2 linked regions of the Homo sapiens genome follow. The protein of the gene in region 2 purifies or fractionates together with the protein of the main gene of each other region. This does not show direct contact. Each region holds a gene or a part of one and is shown on either strand. Other genes may lie near its edges.

Region 1 (4,496 bases), on a different chromosome or scaffold from region 2:
CACCTGAGGCCAGGAGTTCAAGACCAAACTGGGCAACATAGTGAGAACTCATCTCTACAAAAATTTTATAAAATTAGTTGAGTATGGTGGCATAAGCCTGCAGTCCTAGCTACTTAGGAGGTTGTGGAGGGAGCACTGCCTGAGCCCAGGCATTCGTTACGGTGAGCTACGGCAGAGCAAGATCCTGTCTCTTAAAAAACTTTTTAAAATGGCACTGGATTAAAATTTTATATAGTATTTTCTTTTTACTTTTAATTTCATAAGCAAGATTTGTAGTTTGTGTGTGTGTGTGCTATCTTTGTTGGACTTTGGTTTCATAGTTATGCTAACTTTTTAATATATGCTGGAACATTTTCCAATTTTTTAAGTCTAGAACACTTTATATGGTACTGAAGTTACCTGTTTCAGTTTTGTTTTTTGTTTTTGTTTTTTTGTTTTTTTGCTTTTTTCTAAGAGACAAGGTCTCACTCTGTAACCCAGGCTAGAGTGCAGTGGTGCAATCATAGCTTACTAAAGCCTCAAACTCCTGGGTTCAAGTGATCCTCCTACCTCAGCCTCCTGAGGAGCTGGGACTGACTACAGGTGTGCACCACCACACCTGGCTAATTTTTTTTTATTTCTTAGGGACGAGTCTTACTATGTTGCCCAGGCTGGTCCTGAACTCTTGGCCTCGAGAGATCCTGCTGCCTCAACCTCCCAAGTAGCTAAGATTATGGGTGTAAGCCACCACACCCTGCTCAGGTAATTTTCTAAACCAGACACTCTTAAATATGCAAAACATCAGTAACTTCAAATGTTTTATCGTAACATTATTTTCTCCATTCTTAAATAAGTGTCTCCAATTCTGTGTTCAATACTTTCTAGCTTTGACGGTTAAAAATTTAAAACCTTTTAACTATAATATACAAATTATGCTTTAAAATGTGCTGATTCCTAAACAAAGCAAGTTTGAATTTATAACGTTGCCAAAGTTGTTTTCCAGAAATTTTACAGCCCAAACTATACTGAGACAATAATATATCACTGTAAAATACAGTATTATCCATGTCTCAACAATAGTCTCAATAGCATTTTATTAAAAGTGCAGCTATATTAAAAACAAAACATGTGTTTAATATTACCCATTTATGGCTATGTTTCTTTTTTCAACTAGATTTTAGTTCACCACAGTTAGAAACATGAAGCCTTTGCACGGTACTGTTAAATTCCATTATTGCTTATTGATCAATAATTACCATTCATTTTATTTCTGGTATATATTACTCCCAGATCTGCTGGAATGGAGTCAAAGCCGCTGCTTCCAATGATATAAACCCCTTTGTCTGCAGCTTTCTCATGATACTTCAGTTGCATTAGTTCCAGAAACTAAAAAATCCAGGATAAGAATTTTAATTAGTTATGCAGAAAGATGTAGACCAGTATTAAATAATTTATCTTTAAAAACAAAGCAACCAAACTTTGAAAATGCTAAGCAGTGTGGCTCTGCAGCAAAACATTAACTGTCAAAATATTTTCCACTTATTCGGCAAATACAGCGCCTACTGCACACCAGGTGGTACAGAAGTTGTGCTCGTCTGACTGTATGACACTTAATTTTTTTAGAATGACTTTTAAATATAAAAGTAATGCCTATTATAAAATATTAAAATATAAAAAATAGAAAGCAAAAAAAAAATGACCCCAAACAGCATTACCCAGATGAACATCATCACAGACATAAAGCTCCGCACACGTACAGACAGAGAGCAGGAAAGTAGATGGTGGCAGAGGGCACAGGGGAATAATGTCTGCTCTGCTCTTCTGCCTGTTTTTAGAAATTCCTTTTTAAAAACAGTTTAAGATTTACAGAAAAATTGAATAGTAGAGAGTTCCCAAGTACTCTGAAACCCAGTTTTCTCTATTTTTAACATCTTTTACATGAACAGTGGTTACAATTAATGAACCAGTACTGACATATATGATTTAATTCACTAAAGTTCACAGTTCATTCTGATTCCCTTAGTTTTAACTGAACCCCTTTTTCTGCTCCAGGATCCCATCCAGGATTACATTCGGTTGTTACGTCTCCTTCGGCTTCTTTTGGCTGCGACGGTTTCTCACACTTTCCTTGTCTCTGATGACCTTGATGGTTTTGAGGAGTACTGGTCAGGCATTTTGTAGAGTGCCCCTCTACTGGAATTTGTCTCATGCTTTTCTCATTATTATTATGAGTTTTGGAAAGAGACCACAGGGGTAAAGTGCTATTCTTATCATATCATATCACATCGGGGCTACGCACTGTCAACATGATTTACCAGGGTTAATGCTGACTTGAACACCTGGCTGAGGCAGTGTTCACCAGGTTTCTCCACTGTCAATTTATGCTCCCTCTCCCAGAAGGTGACACACAAACACAATCACACCTGTTCAAGCACATACCAGACACAAACACACACCACACACACCCATTCATGCACATACACAAACACACACGAACACAATCACACACACACACTTGCTCATGCACACACAAACACATTAAGTCACACTAACATAGTCACACACATACAAACACATTAACACACTCAGTCACACACACAGCTGCTTGCACATAAATGTGGAGAAGCTACATAAATCATTTGGAATTCTTCCACAAAGAAGATTTGTCTCTTCTCATCCCTGCCTTTTTGGTTTTGTTTTGTTTTGAGACGGAGTCTCGCACTGTTGCCCGGGCTGGAGTGCGATGGTGCAGACTCGGCTCACTGCAACCTCCACCTCGCGGGTTCAAGCGATTCTGCTGCCTCAGCTTCCCGAGTAGCTGGGTTTACAGCACCTGCCACCACGCCCAGCTAATTTTCTATTTTTAGTGGAGACAGGGTTTCTCCATGTTGGTCAGGCTGGTCTCAAACTCCTGACCTCAGGTGATCCACGTGCCTCGGCCTCCCAAAGTGCTAGGATTACATCCCCTGCCCATTTTTAAAATAAATTGTCTTTATTTCTATTATTGTCTTGTAAAAGTTCTTTAAATACTCTGGGTTTTTTTTTTTTGAGACGGAGTCCCACTCTGTCGCCAGGCTGGAGTGCAGTGGCATGATCTTGGCTCATTGCAACCTCCGACTCCCAGGTTCAAGCGATTCTCTTGCCTCAGCCTCCCAAGTAGCTGGGACTACAGGCGTGCACCACCACGCCCAGCTAACTTTTGTATTTTTAATAGAGATGGGGTTTCACCATGTTGGCCAAGATGGTCTCGATCTCTTGACCTCGTGATCCGCCTGCCTCGGCCTCCCAAAGCACTGGGATTACAGGTGTGAGCCACCGCACCCAGCCCTCTGGTTCTTTAATAGGTTTGTTGTTGTTGTTTTGAGACAGGATCCGACCCTGTTGCCCAGGCTGGAGTGCAGTGGCGCAATCTTGGCTTACTGCAACCTCCAACTCCTGGGTTCAAGTGATTCTCATGCCTCAGCCTTCTGAGTAGCTGGGATTGCAGACGTGCACCACCATGCTTGGCTGATTTTTGTATTTTTAGTAGAGATGGGGTTTCGCCATGTTGGCCAGGCTGGCCTCAAACTCCTGGCCTCAAGTGATCCACCCACTTTGGCTTCCCAGAGTGCTGAGATTACAGGTATGAGCCAACGTGCCCAACTCCTTATTAGGTTTTGATATTATGGCTGGGCGTGGTGGCTCATGCCTGTAATCCCAGCATTCTGGGAGGCCGATGCAGGTGGATCACTTGAGGCCAGGAGTTCAAGACCAAGCTGGCCAACACGGTGAAACCCTGTCACTACTAAAAATACAAAAATTAGTCAGGTGTGGTGGTGTGCACCTGTACCCCCAGCTACTCAGGAGGTTGAGGCAGGAGAATCGCTTGAACCCAGGTGGCAGAGGTTACAGTGAGCCAAGATCGTAGCACTGCACTCCAGCCTGGGTGAGAGAGAGAGACCCTGTATCAAAAAAAAAGGGGGGGGTTCGATACTACTTTTATGATAGTTTCTAGATGACTTAAAAGCTTTTCACCATTTTCTATGTTCTGGGTTATTTAAAATAACATGGGAATTGTTTTTTGTTTTTGTTTTTTGGAGACAGGGTCTCACTATGTTGCCCAGGCTGGAGTGCAGTGGCATGATCATAGCTCATTGCAGCCTTGACCTCCCAGGCTCAAGTGATATTCCTGTCTCATTCTCCTGAGTAGGTGGGACCACAGGTGTGTGCTACCAACTCCTGGCTAATTTGTTAACTCACCAGCTCAAGTCATCCTCCCACCTAGCCTCCCAAAGTGCTGGGGTAACAGGCGTGAGCCACCTCGCCTGGGCTTTTTTTTTTTTTTAATTTGTTTCCTCCTTTTTGAATCAATTTTTGTAATTTACACTGTCTCAGTATTTTCCAGTATTTTACCAATTGATAAACTGCAAATGCATATTAATATCATATTGGCATGCTGATGATGATAATCAGTAGTTACTACAGAGACACATGAGGTTACCATTTTAAAGGCTGTAGTAGAGCTTAATGCCTGTTAA
Region 2 (5,001 bases):
GTCTTGAGAACATGTGCCCTCTCTTTTTTAAAATCCATTTAAGCTGTAGTTTTTTTAAACTACTTTTGAAAAAAAATGTATTTAAGAAGTAGTAGTGTACAATCGCATTCTAATTTGAGCATATTATATGACTTTTTATTTTAAATCCTGATAGATAACGTAGAATAAGTAATATAATGAAGCTTATGTTTTGGAAAATTAAGTCTATGATCCTTTATCCTACCAGAGTTAGGAAAACAATTAACATTCTTATTTATTTCAAATCTCACACACCAAAAAAAGAAAAACTATGATAAAATATGGTTTTAGCTATCTGACATACTAGACTCAGAAAGAGAAAGAGGTTAAAAACACACATACCACTTGGTTCCTAGTGGTGAAACTTTTGCTGATGCAGGTGTGTGCTAGTTCCTGGTCCATCTGGGCCATGTATGACTTGAGATTATCAAGTGTTCCTTTCAGGGAAGCCTCTTCGCCAGGTTCGTGTGTTTCAAAGTCCAAGTCATCATCACTATCTAAACATTCAAAGTCTTCATCATCCAGATCATCAGAATCTGACTCATTAGGCCTTGGCCCTACACAGATCCCAAGAAAGAAAGAGCCACTTAGTAATTATTATTATTATTATTATTATTATTATTATTTAGTTACTACACATCTCAAAATAATTAGAATGTTACCCACAGAAAAAGACTAATACACACAGTCAGTCTACTTCACAAAAATCCCTTCTACAAATGGTAATGCTGGCAGATATGTGTGCATTTAATGTTGTGGAAAAGCGTACAAGCTGAATCAAAAGATTTAGCTTAAAAAAAAGTGAATTCAATTAATTAAAATATTTTTCTTAAAAAATTTTTAAAAATACCTAATAAATGAATACATTTTGATGTAAACATTCAAGCCATACAAGTATTGTCTCCAATCTCACTCTCTCCCCAGAGGTAAGCATCTTTTAGCAGTTTCCGGGTATCCCAATCTTTCTCTCTGCAGTTCTGTACATATATACATATTATAATTATTTTTTGAGTTATCTTTTTATTACTGATTTGTAAGTACAGTAATTCCAAAAAAGAACAATATAATATGGGAGCCAAGGTAAAACCCTATTTAAACACACAGCATTCAGTCACTCTCAAATATTTAATGAGGCCGGGCACGGTGGCTCACGCCTGTAATCCCAGCACTTTGGTAGGCTGAGATGGGCGGATCATGAGGTCAGGAGATCGAGACCATCCTGGCTAACACGGTGAAACCCCGTCTCTACTAAAAATACAAAAAAATTAGCTGGGTGTGGTGGCAGGCGCCTGTAGTCCCAGTTACTCAGGAGGCTGAGGCAGAAGAATGGCATGAACCCAGGAGGCGGAGCTTGCAGTGAGCCGAGATCGTGCCACTGCACTCCAGCCTGGGCAACAGAGCGAGACACTGTCTCAAAAAAAAAAAAAAAAAATTAATGAGCAGCTACTATATATGTCAAACACTAAGCTAGGCAGCCTCTACAAAATTATTCATGGGTAGTAATTCATGGTTGAAAGCAACTCAAACCAGGAAGAGAAAGCAAACATTTTGGCTTCTGAGATATCTCATAAACCAATGCTCTAGCAACAGCCATACTACTAACAGTTTCAAAATGAAAGTCAACATCACACCACTACTTACCTAAAATCTTATCAAAATAATTAAGAAAAGAATCTGCATCAAAAGTGATTGGAGCCTCAGAAGGTTCTCTGCAATATTAAAGGACAAAGACAATTAATTTATTCTAAATACAACTCTTTGAAACTTTTCTAAAGTGGTGCCATTCTTAGGAAAGCTACCAAAGATAGAATTTCTAAGGAGGCACAGCAAGAAAAGTTGTAGTTTAAGTTTTAAAAATCCTTGAGTTTACTGGCCTTGCAGGACAACAGAAATGGGAAAGTCTGATAAATGAAAAGTAAAAATTGCATCTTGTTTATGTACATTTAGCTTATGCTGATTTAGGGACCTACCCACTCTCTAGCCCCAATAAGATATCTAGCATTAGCAAAACCATTATTTATTTGAGTTAATTTAAATAAAGCCTGTTCTTTTAAGAACTAAAGCTTAAAAAATAAACAAGAACATATCTTCCCTTATCCCTGCTTTCTTAAAGAGAGAATACCAAATATAAATTTATATCTTTCATCAGGTTCAAGAGCATCAACACTAATAATGATATATTTGATACACAAGTAACAGTTTTTTTTGTTTTGTTTTTTTTTTGAGACGGAGTCTTGCTCTGTCACCCAGGCTGCGGTGCAGTGGCACGATCCCAGCTCACTGCAACCTCTGCCTTCCGGGGTCAAGCGATTCTCCTGCCTCAGCCTTTCAAGTAGCTGGGATTATAGGCGTGCGCCACCATACCCGGCTAATTTTTGTATTTTTAGTAGAGATAGGGTTTCACCATGCTGGCCAGGCTGGTTTTGAACTCCTGACTTCGTGATCTGCCTGCCTCGGTCTCCCAAAGTACTGGGATTACAGGCATGAGCCACCGCGCCCAGCCTACAAGTAATAATTCTATCTACCTGTTTTTCCTGTTATTTGCCAAATGTAGTTTCATATTTCTGTTATTATTTCTGCCTCTGATGAATTCCTTTTTCAGTATCCAATCTGCTTGCAGGGTGGGAGATCAGAGGTCTGAACTTGTTGAAAGTTAAATGTTGAGCCCATAAAGCTACTAAAGAGTAAAGTATATGGTTTCCCTGTGTGGTTCTGGATGATGGTTTTTAGGGTGATCTTTCTGGCTTATTTCAAGGATTGCAAAGGATGAGGCTTCTAGAAATCTGACTTCAAATAAGTAAGTTATCACTATACTAGGCACAAAAAAGAAAGCAAGCAGTACAACTCATTTACTCAAAAAAAAAAAAAAAAAGTGGAAATGGCAATGACTATGACTTCAACATTTGGGTTCTAGCTATTTATATATTTATACTTTAACACAAATTACCGAGGCAGCTCTGCTCCCTTGTGGGTTGAGACTTTGGATATGAAAGCTTTCATGCTCTCTGAGACTTCAGTTAAGTCATAGTTCTGCTCCTTCTCCTCCTTGGAAACAGACTCGGATTCTTTTTTGCCAACAGCTTCCTGCAGCAGCTGGTCCAGCTGATCTGGTGAGAGATCTAACCACTGGTCATCTGAAAAAGAAGAAAGCATAATACTGCCATTCTACATTCACATAAGTCCTCTTAGGAGAGGATCCTGTGAGACTGAGTAGAACATTTTAATTTTTTTTTTTTAACCCTTCCACTGTATCCTGGTCCATCACTTACCATCCTCTGGGGGAAGATTAGCTGCTTCTTTCTTAAGGTCTTCTATATCAAATGGTATTGTCTGTAATAAGGTTAAGATTTCTTCACCAGGGCTCATAGCAAGAGAACTATGAAAAATAAAAAACATGAGTATTTCTTCATAAGAGAACATAGAATAGTAATCATAAATACATAGTATTTTAAGGTTGGAAGGGATTAGCTAGTCTAATTTGGGGAGTGTTTTTTTTTTTTTTTTTTAAGAGATGGGGTTTCATTGTTGCCCAGAATGGACTCGAACTCCTGGGTTCAAATGATCCTCCCACTTCATCCTCCCAAGTAGCCAGCACTACAAGTACATGCCAAAACACCTGGCTCTAATTTGTTTGTTTGTTTTTAACAGAGTTTCACTCTGTCGCCCAGGCTGGTGTGCAGTGGCGCGACCTCGGCTCACCACAACCTCCGCCTCCCAGGTTGAAGAGATTCTCCTGCCTCAACCTCCCAAGTAGCTGAGACTACAGGCATGCGCCACCACACCCAGCTAATTTTTGTATTTTTAGTAAAGATGGGGTTTCACCATATTGGCCAGGTTGGTCTCGAACTCCTGACCTCATAATCCCCCTGCCTTGGCCTCCCAAAGTGCTGGGATTACAGACATGAGCCACCGCACCCAGCCTTCTAATTTGTTTTTAAGCATATTTTTAGGTTGCAGATCCCTTTTTCTCAAACAAAACTTTTACCAGGAACTCTAAAATACAGAAGGGGTCAAAGAAAAATGGCCTTCATTAAAGTGGAGGATAGGCCAGGCACAGTGGCTCATGCCTGTAATCCCAGCACTTTGGGAGGCCAAGGCGGGGAGATCACTTGAGGTCAGGAGTTCACTTGGCCAACATGGTGAAACCCCGTCTCTACTAAAAATACAAAAATTAGCTGGGCATTGTGGCACGTGCCTGTAATCCCAGCTACTCGGGAGGCTGAGGCAGGAGAATTGCTTGAACCCGGGAGGTGGAGGTTGCAGTGAGCTGCCCCAGCATGGGCGACTGAGCAAGACTCCATCTCAATAAATAAATAAAATAAAATAAAATAAAAATAAATAAATTGGAGGATAGAAGCTCAGAGATCTACACAATTGGCCTTCCTTTTTGGCTCTGAAGCAGGCTCCATGGAACATCATTATGAAGCCACTGATCTCGTATAATTCTTTCTATACATACATGCAGAGACAGGGTCTCTCTCTATATATGTATATATATGTACATACAGTTGTATTATGTTAATAGTACATATACATATAAAACACGTACTAAAAATACATAAAAATATACATATAATATATATTTTATATACGAGGAAAAGAAGATCCAGAAGGAAAGCATCAATTAAAATTTATCTAGCATGTATTAAATGCTATGCTAACACTTTAAATACATTTTCTTATTGAGTCCTTTTGTTACTATTATAGAAGGTAATAATCCTGTTTTACAGATGAGAAAACCAGAACCCAGGGAAGTTCTTTAACTTTTGCAAAGTCTGTATTACCCAGGAGGCGGAGGTTGCAGTGAGCCAGGATTGTGCCATTGCACTCCAGGCTGGGCGACAAGAGCGAGACTCCGTTGGCCGGGTGCGGTGGCTCACGCCTGTAATCCCAGCACTTTGGGAGGCCAAGGCGGGCGGATCACGAGGTCAGGAGATCGAGACCATCCTGGCTAACACAGTGAAACCCCGTCTCTACTAAAAA

What was found. Proteins that work in one complex are often made in the same cells at the same time.
Region 1: the proteins of ECD (region 2) and SCCPDH purify together in Homo sapiens (co-immunoprecipitation; one large-scale study listed by IntAct). This does not show direct contact.

Annotation. Positions count from the first base shown.
Region 1 is NC_000001.11:246,737,041-246,741,536, reverse strand, and holds part of SCCPDH (saccharopine dehydrogenase-like oxidoreductase), read right to left. Parts: intron 1,366-4,496; coding exon 1,236-1,365; intron 1-1,235.
Region 2 is NC_000010.11:73,136,344-73,141,344, forward strand, and holds part of ECD (protein ecdysoneless homolog), read right to left. Parts: intron 3,395-5,001; coding exon 3,288-3,394; intron 3,153-3,287; coding exon 2,966-3,152; intron 1,728-2,965; coding exon 1,660-1,727; intron 576-1,659; coding exon 361-575; intron 1-360. UniProt on the Homo sapiens protein: Regulator of p53/TP53 stability and function. Inhibits MDM2-mediated degradation of p53/TP53 possibly by cooperating in part with TXNIP. May be involved transcriptional regulation. In vitro has intrinsic transactivation activity enhanced by EP300.